Linked DNA regions of Homo sapiens. The gene in region 1 interacts genetically with each later gene. Each region holds a gene or a part of one and is shown in the gene's direction. Other genes may lie near its edges.

Region 1 (5,647 bases):
ACTAAAAATACAAAAATTAGCCGGGTGTGGTGGCGCACACCTGTAGTCCCAGCTACTTGGGAGGCTGAGGCAGGAGAATCACTTGAACCCGGGAAGGTTGCAATGAGCCAAGATTGCACCATTGCACTCCAGCCTGGGCATCACAGCAAGACTTTGTCTCAAAAACAACCCAACAAACAAATATATGTGTGTGTGGTGTGTGTACATAGAGGGGTGTGTGTGTGTGTATATAGACAGAGAGAGGTGTGTGTGTGTATATATATATATATATATATATATATATATATATATAGAGAGAGAGAGAGAGAGAGAGAGAGAGAGAGAGAGAGAGAGAGAGAGAGAGAGAGAGAGAGGAAAGCCAGGCATAGCGGCACATACCTATAGACCTATAGTCCTGGCTACTCAGGAGGCTGAGGTGGGAGGACCACTTGAGCCCAAGAGTTCAAGCCTGCAGTGAGCTACTATCTGTGATCATGCCACTGCACTCCAGCCTGGGTGACAGAGTGAAACCCTGTCTCTTAAAAAAAAAAAAGAAAAAAATTTAAATAGTTTTAACACAAACTTTTTTTTTTTTTTGAGATGGAGTCTCACTGTGTCACCCAGGTTGGAGTACAGTGGTGTGATCTCCGCTCACTGCAACCTCCACCTTCTGGGTTCAAGCGATTCTCCTGCCTCAGCCTCCTGAGTAGCTGGGACTACAGGAGCGTGCCACCACACCCAACTAATTTTTGTATTTTTAGTAGAGATGGGATTTCATCATGTTGGCCAGGCTGGTCTCAAACTCCTGACCTCTGGTCTGCCCGCCTCGGCCTCCCAAAGTGCTGGAATTACAGGCGCGAGCCACCGTGCCCGGCTGACCCGAAACTTTTATATCTTCTTATTCCATTCTGAGTTATTATCTTGGAATATATATTTCCAATACAGTTAGTGGTTGAAGGATTTTGTTATTCACATTATATATTTTATTTATTTATAATTTATATGTAAGAAGCCACATGTAGCTAGTGATTACTGTTTTGGACAGCACTGCCTTAAGGGATAACAAGGAAGTAGTTTAAATTAATATTCTTATTTTTATCCTAAAATTTTCTCTACGTAAATGTATGAGAAATAAGTAGAAAAGAAAGTAATAACTATTAGCTTAAGGGAATTTCTTTCTGAAAGCTAGGTGTGATGCTGTCAGCAGAAAGGCTTTCTGGACACATACTATTGGTTTAGTCTAGTGTTAGATTTAACATATTCTTTCTTCTTTTTTCTACCCTTTAAAAATGTATGAACGTTTGCCCACCCCTCCCTTGTTCTCTTTGATATTACAGTTGGAAAGACTTCAAATCATGCAATAGTTCTTGCCCAGCTCATCACTAAGGGGAAATGCTATGGATTACATGCCTTTATCGTACCTATTCGTGAAATCGGGACCCATAAGCCTTTGCCAGGTAAGAACTGTTCATCTGATGTTGAGATGAAAATGAAACTGAGCACTTTCTTCTGCAAAAGGTAGAATGCCCAACTGAAGAGGCGGAGCAAAAGCCAGAAATTCCAGAGCATAAACATCTCGTGACTGTCCTTTCATCTGTGGTAGGAATTACCGTTGGTGACATCGGCCCCAAATTTGGTTATGATGAGATAGACAATGGCTACCTCAAAATGGACAACCATCGTATTCCCAGAGAAAACATGCTGATGAAGTATGCCCAGGTATGTTTTGATAGAAAATAAAGCAGAGGCATCAAACAGTGGAGTTGAGTGGCTGTTACTCACAATAGGGTTAGAATGGTCTGTTCTTTTAGAAGGTAATAACAGCAGGGCACACTGGCATATTCCTGTTATCCCAGCACTTTGGGAGGCTGAGTGCGTGGATGACTTGAGCCCAGGAGCTCAAGATCAGTCTGGGCAACATAGTGAGAACCCATCTCTACAAAAAGTAAAAAAATCTAGCTGGGTATGGTGGCACACGTGTGTAGTCCCAGCTACTTGGGAGACTGGGGTGGGAGGATCACTTGAGCCTGGGAGGCCGAGGCTACAGTGAGCTGTGATTATGCCACCGTACTCCAGCCTAGATGACAGTGAGACCTTGTCTCAAAAAAAAAAAGGAGGCTGGGCGCAGTGGCTCACACCTGTAATTCCAGCACTTTTGGGAGGCTGAGGCGGGAAGATCATGAGGTCAAGAGATGGAGACCATCCTGGCCAACATGGTGAAACCCCATCTCTACTAAAAATACCAAAAAATTAGCTGGGCGTGGTGGTGCGCACCTGTAGTCCCAGCTACTCAGGAGGCTGAGGCAGGAGAATAGCTTGAACCCGGGAGGCGGAGGTTGCAGTGAGCAGAGATCATGACACTGCACTCCAGCTTGGCAACAGAGTGAGACTCCGTCTCATAAAAGGAGGGAATAAGGCTGGGCGCGGTGGCTCATGCCTGTAGTCCCAGCACTTTGGGAGGCCAAGGAGGATGGATCATAAGGTCAGGAATTCAAGACCAGCCTGACCAATATGGTGAAAACCTGTCTCTACTAAAAATACAAAGATTAGCCGGGTGTGATGGCACACGCCTGTAATCTCAGCTACTCAGGAGGCTGAGGCAGGAGAATCGCTTGAACCCAGGAGGCAGAGGTTGCAGTAAGTCGAGATCACACCACTGCACTCCAGCCTAGGCAATACAGCGAGACTCTGTCTCAAAAAAAAAAAAAAAAAAAAAGGAGCTAATAATGCATTTTTCCTTCTGATGCCCCTTTTTTTTTTTTTTGAGAGAGAGAGTCTCTGTCACCCATGCTGGAGTGCAGTGGCGTGATCTTGGCTCACTGCAACCTCCGCCTCCTGGGTTCAAGCGATTCTCCTGCCTCAGCCTCCCAAGTAGCTGGGATTACAGGCATGCGCCACCACACCCAGCTAATTGTTTTGTATTTTTAGTAGAGGTGGGGTTTCACCCTGTTGGCCAGGCTGGTCTCAAACTCCTGACCTCAGGGGACCCTCTTGCCTCGGCCTCCCAAAGTGCTAGGATTACAGGCATGAGCCACCGCACCCAGCATTTTTTGGTTTTTTTTTTTTTTTGAGACAGAGTCTTGCTCTGTCACCCAGGCTGGAGTGCAGTGGCGCAATCTCAGCTCACTGAAACCTCCGCCTCCCAGGTTCAAGCGATTCTCCTGTCTCAGCTCCTGAGTAGCTGGGATTACAGGCACGTGCCACCACACGCAGCTAATTTTTGTATTTTTAGTAGAGATGGGGTTTCACCATGTTGGTCAGGCTGGTCTCGAATTCCTGACCTCTTGATCTGTCTGCCTTGGCCTCCCAAAGTGCTGGGATTACAGGCGTGAGCCATCACGCCCACTCTGATGCTTCTTTTACTGCGACAGTGAAATCAGAAACAGTTGTCAGGGTTGAAGGACATATTTTGATTTGCTAAACCAATGATTCTCAAACTTTTGCATGCGTTAGAATCACCTGGAAGGCCAGTTAAAGCCCAGGTTGCTAGGCCCTACCCTGGAGTTTCTGATTCAGTTGGTCAGGGTGGGGACTAAGATGTAGTATTTCATGCAAGTTGCCAGGTGATGCTGATGCTGCTATTCCAGGGACCACACTTTGAGAACCACTGAACTGCCTCTTGGGCTTAAAAGAAGGAAGTATCAGTTCCACGTTCTTCTTCCAGGTGAAGCCTGATGGCACATACGTGAAACCGCTGAGTAACAAGCTGACTTACGGGACCATGGTGTTTGTCAGGTCCTTCCTTGTGGGAGAAGCTGCTCGGGCTCTGTCTAAGGCGTGCACCATTGCCATCCGATACAGCGCTGTGAGGCACCAGTCTGAAATCAAGCCAGGGTAAGGATAGGGTCCTAGATGGGCTCAGTACCAAAGGCCTAGTTTTTACCCCATTCAGATCCCAGAATTCCCAAATGTCAATACAGAAGATGCATTAGCACTGCAAAATTGGCTAGGGTGATAACTGGGCCTGTAATTTCATATCTAGGCTTCCTTTTCTTAAGAGGAAAGACAGAAATAACCACCCTTGCTATAATCAGTGACTGCCAAAAAAGAAAAAAAGAGAATACCCACCTTATTATTTTTAACTTTTTAAGAAAAATAGTAATAATATTACTTGAACTTTATAAGTGAAATGTTCAACACACTAAAGGCAGTTTGAAAGTTCTGATTACTACTAGCAACTGTAAATTGTGCATGGTGAAAGTGACATTAAATTTGTTTCCCTTTTGCATTCATAGCCACAGTTTATTCCTACAACTGCCTTTCACTGATACTCCCTGATACTCTTTTTACTCCTAAGGAATAAAGAAACTGGCCAGGTGTGGTAGCTGACACCTGTAATCCCAGCACTTTGGGAGGCTAAGGCAAGAAGATTACTTGAGCCTAGGAGTTTGAGGCCAACTTGAGCAACATAGTGAGACCCTGTCTCTATTTTCTTTTCTTTTTTTTTTTTTTTTGAGATGGATTCTCACTCTGTTGCCCAGACTGGAGTGCAGTGGCGCGATCTCAGCTTGCTGCAGTCTCTGCCACCCTGGGTTCAAGTGATTCTCCTGTCTCAGCCTCCTGAGTAGCTGGGATTACAGGTGCACGCCACCATGCCCAGCTAATTTTTGTATTTTTAGTAGAGACGGAATTTCGCCATGTTGGCCAGGCTGGTCTATTTTCAAAAAAATTAAAAGTTAATTAAATTTTAAGGCCAGGCGCAGTGGCTCACGCCTGTAATCTCAGCACTTTGGGAGGCCAAAGCGGGTGGATCACTTGAAGTCAGGAGTTCAAGACCAGCCTGGCCAACATGGAGAAACCCCACGTCTACTAAAATACAAAAATTAGCTGGGTGTGGTGGCGGGTGCCTGTAATTCCAGCTACTCGGGAGACTGAGGCAGGAGAATCACTTGAACCCAGGAAGTGGAGGTTGTAGTGAGCCGAAATCACAACACTGCACTCCATCCTGGGTGTTAGAGACTTCATCTCAAAAAATAATAATAATAATTACATTTTTAAAAAGGAATAAAGGAATTGATACAATGAGACCCTTGCTAATTCTTACACTTCAAAATATTTAACACCATCCATTGGGTCTTCTCCAAGATTGTGGTCAAAATACAATGTATTCAGCCATCTGGTGAGTAGAGCTTTTTGGCATTGCCTTCTTATTAGGTTGACTAGCGTTGGTTTTGTATGTTGCTATGAGCTACGGTTTTCTTAGTCATACTGGAAAGACTAGGACAGATATGGACTTTGCAGCCAGAAAATTCTGTCAGCCTACGCAGTACAAGGTAATTACAGCATGGTCTTAGGGAGCCAAATAGCCTAGGCACCGTGGCTCATGCCTGTAATCCCACCACTGTGGGAGGCTGAGGCAAGAGAATCGCTTGAACTTGGGAGGCGGAGCTTGCAGTGAGCCAAGATCGCACCACTGCACTAAAGCCTGGGTGACAGAGGGAGACTCCATCACAAAAAAAAAAAAAAAAAAAAAAAAGCCTCAATTTAAATCTAAGACCTGCCACATACGAGCTGTGTGACCTCAGGCAGATTCTTAACCTCTCAGTTTCCCATTTGTAAAATGGAGATAGTAATAGTAACTACCTCACAGTGCCCTTAAGAGGACTAAATAAGTTAAAATACCAAGTGCTTAGATTAGAACCTGGCATATAGAAAGTTCTGTATAAAC
Region 2 (3,500 bases), on another chromosome or scaffold:
TTCTCCTTCTTTCCTAGATGATTGACATTAGATATGTCTACTCCTTTAAGCAAAGATACCACCACTGACCTACAGAAGTGTGGCTTTACTCTCTGACCCCAAAGGGGCAGTCACATCAGAACATGACAGTCCAGCAGCAGTACGAGGTATTTCCAAATAAAATTAAAGGGCTGATTTTCTTAACAAGACATATTTATTGAATGGTAAGTGAAATCAATAAAAGAGAACATGTGCGACACAATGATTTCTTATACATATGTAGTGGTCTAGAACGCAGAAAGAATCCTATAATCTAGTATACCCTTTGAAATGGCATCTATAACCATAAAGCCAAGACCTAGACTTTGGTGAAAGATTGCAGTGTGGAAGCTTGCTCTTCCAGGGGAAAAGCACGTGTAAAAACCACCTTCAAATCTGGCTCCCCTTCTATTAGGAGTAATCGTCTCCCCCAACCACTTGGATTAATGGTGGGTCTCATAGCTGATGACTTTGAAGCTCTGTATTCTGCATGGAAATGACCTGTTTTGTGTTGAAACCTCCCCTGGCTTGAAGTAATCAACTCTACTGGTAACATATTATTATCGTGAAGCATTTTTAGGGTGCCAGCATTGTAGGTTGTGGAATGATTGCCAGATGTGCTTAAAAGTCCACATTTATTCTGTAACAAAATGTTTGCCTCCAGGAAGACATTGCATAATTTTTTTTCTCTAGACAGTTTATGCTCCTTGAGTTGTAAGAAGTAACTTCATAAGGCAATTCATCTTAAAGAGGGTAAAAGTCATAAAAGGAAAACATTTTCTTGAGTCCATTCTTATTTTTCTCCCTCTTTCATAAAAAATGCCAAATATAATTGGTTCCAGTTGGATAAAATTACCATGTGTGTGATTGCTCTTTGTTTAGGAATCTTCTGATGGCTTTCAATACATGCAGAAGTGTTCATCCATATGCCAAGTTTCAATTAAACTTTGGCATCTAAAATTTGGTATGCTGCTCAAGAGGCTTTAAGCCATTGGAACTGACTGAATCACAGTTCTTATAGAATCTCTGTTTAGAGCAGAATACAGAAATGAGTGTTACACATACTCAAACAACCTATATGATTGCAGCATAACTGTTCTCCACCTAATTCAGCTCTCAGCCATGACAAAGAGGAGAAATGATGTTAACTAGAATTACATACAGTTTAATGTAAGTTGCTGTTTCTGTGGAGGACTAATCCAAAATATTTATATATATTTGGGGCAACTAACATTTTTTGAATACCTATTCTGTAGCAGGTTCTTTTCTAGTTGTCATACAAATGTAATTTGATCTTCAGAGCATCTACTCAGCTATTTTTAGCATCCGTTTTATAAAGAACAATGCTGAAATTTAGAAATGTTAAACAATGTGCAGTAAGTTACACAGCCAGTAGGTTGTTGTCAAGTGGGCAAAACCCAATATATTTGGGGCTGGAACACGTGGACCATGGGGCTGGCAGATTCTCTCAGTATCCCATATCTCAGTCCTCTATTCTCTCAGTATTCAGCCAGGCACAGCTGGATACAGGTGGATTATGCTCTTCAAAAGCGCACTCACCCCCATTCCTTCTCTTCTCCCTTTTCATAGGAATTTGGAAAGCCACACGTTGGCTCTGATCTACTGAACCAACATTCCTTGTGCTGTGCTCATTATATCTAAGTTATATCCTGGGTACGGATAGAAGACTGGAAGAAAAGGGCATAAATAGCAGTAATAAGTATGTTTAACCCCCACTTTCTCTTTCTGTTGAAATCTTAGCCATCTTTGGAGGTCAAGCTTTATATCTCACTTCTTTCATTAATTCATTAATCTATTTATTCATTCATCTCTGTTGATTTTATATGATTATGTCCAGCAAGAATAGAAATAATAGCTAGATTTATTAGCGACTTCTGTGTGCTAGGCCCTTCTCCAAGTGCTTTGTAGGTATTAACTCATTTAATCCGTATCACAAACCTATGAGATATGCATTTTTATAATCCTCACTTTACTGATAAGAAAAAAGAATGACAGTAAAAAGAAGGTAGGTGACTTGCCAAATGCTACACAGCTAGCAGTTGGCACAAATGGGAAGAAAGAAAGGGAAGAGCAAAGGATTTTGTTTTATCTCTTATTTCAATAAAGAGTGAAACTAGGTTTTGAAAAATTGCCAGTCTTTGTCACCAAAGGAAGACTATGAATGTTAACAAAATTGTGTCGATTGCTAATGTTACCAAAGATCCACAAACTGATCATGACTAAAGATTGCAAAAGGCAAGGCTTTCTTTTACTTTTCATTGCCATCATGTGGATAAAACTGCTTCTATGCTATAATGCAGGTTGTTTTAGAGACATTGACTCACATGACAGTGTGAAACTGGGGATTTAACCACAAGATTTGCATAATTTTTAAAGCATTTACATGGTATTCGTCTAAAAATATAAGTTGCCAGGAATCAATTACAGTGTGGATAGTCATGTTAAGATTGACTGCCTATTCAAAGCAGAGTTCATGTTTCCATTGCACCAGCTTTGGTTTGTGATACAAAAAGCATTTTGTCCTGACTTGTAGTAGCACAAAACCTTCACAAAAAAAAGAAAAAACAAAAAAACTAGGAAGAGTTCTTTTCATGGGAATCGCTAATAAAATTATCTTGAGAGTTAGGAGTCAAAATAAGAATTAGAAATGGCAATTTCTAAAGGTAACTTAAAAATTCTTTTAGGGAGCTAAACTGTTACAGATAAAAATCATTTTTGTTATTACTGAGTTAGCCTTCTTGAAACAGAATTTTGTATAGAGTAGATTGAAGGGTGGCAGAAGCAGCTATAAAAAGCTGATCCTGGGCAGTAAGAAAATCCCCACACTTAACCTAGGGGAGGGATTTCTGCAGGAACCCTTTTCTTGGAGGGGCATTCAGGGCCAGACACTGTATTCCATCTGGAAAGATTCTTAATTTATTTCAACAAACATTTGTTTAAGTTCCTTTGGTATGTTAGGCACCATTTTAGGGTAACCAATGAATACCATATAGCATGAAGTCTAAGCTTCTATCAATTGTAACCTGCTCTGACATTTTATGTATCTTTAAGAAATAAGCAAAAAGAAGTGTTATCAGTTAAATTATATCTTAGATTTTTATTTTATACCTCTTAAAACAGTTCTTTATACTCAATTAGATATAGATTTGGATCATATATAACTCTTATGCACATAATTAAAAAATAAACAAATTTGTTATGGTATTCCTAAGTTCCTTCACATTTGGGGATGGAGTCTTCAGAATCACTTTTCAACTCAGAAGCTTCAGTGCCCATATTTTTCCACAGGATTGTGCTCTGTGCCAAAAGGACATTGGTGATGAAGGATTTCTTTAAAACAATCTAAAGAATCCATAATAGACCAAAAGCTTTTGGTGCTAGACAATTAAACTGAGTTTGCAATTACATAGAGGTAGACTGTTTTGAGTAACAGTTCCAGAATGTTGCTAAACAAATCTGAT

Evidence for each region.
Region 2: changes in ACOX1 (region 1) and TRPC6 together harm fitness less than expected from each alone (positive genetic interaction), as found in Homo sapiens cells (one large-scale study listed by BioGRID).

The regions. Positions count from the first base shown.
Region 1 is NC_000017.11:75,951,617-75,957,263, reverse strand, and holds part of ACOX1 (peroxisomal acyl-coenzyme A oxidase 1), read left to right. Parts: intron 1-1,316; coding exon 1,317-1,436; intron 1,437-1,582; coding exon 1,583-1,698; intron 1,699-3,643; coding exon 3,644-3,813; intron 3,814-5,647. UniProt on the Homo sapiens protein: Involved in the initial and rate-limiting step of peroxisomal beta-oxidation of straight-chain saturated and unsaturated very-long-chain fatty acids.
Region 2 is NC_000011.10:101,574,008-101,577,507, reverse strand, and holds part of TRPC6 (short transient receptor potential channel 6), read left to right. Parts: intron 1-3,500. UniProt on the Homo sapiens protein: Forms a receptor-activated non-selective calcium permeant cation channel. Probably is operated by a phosphatidylinositol second messenger system activated by receptor tyrosine kinases or G-protein coupled receptors.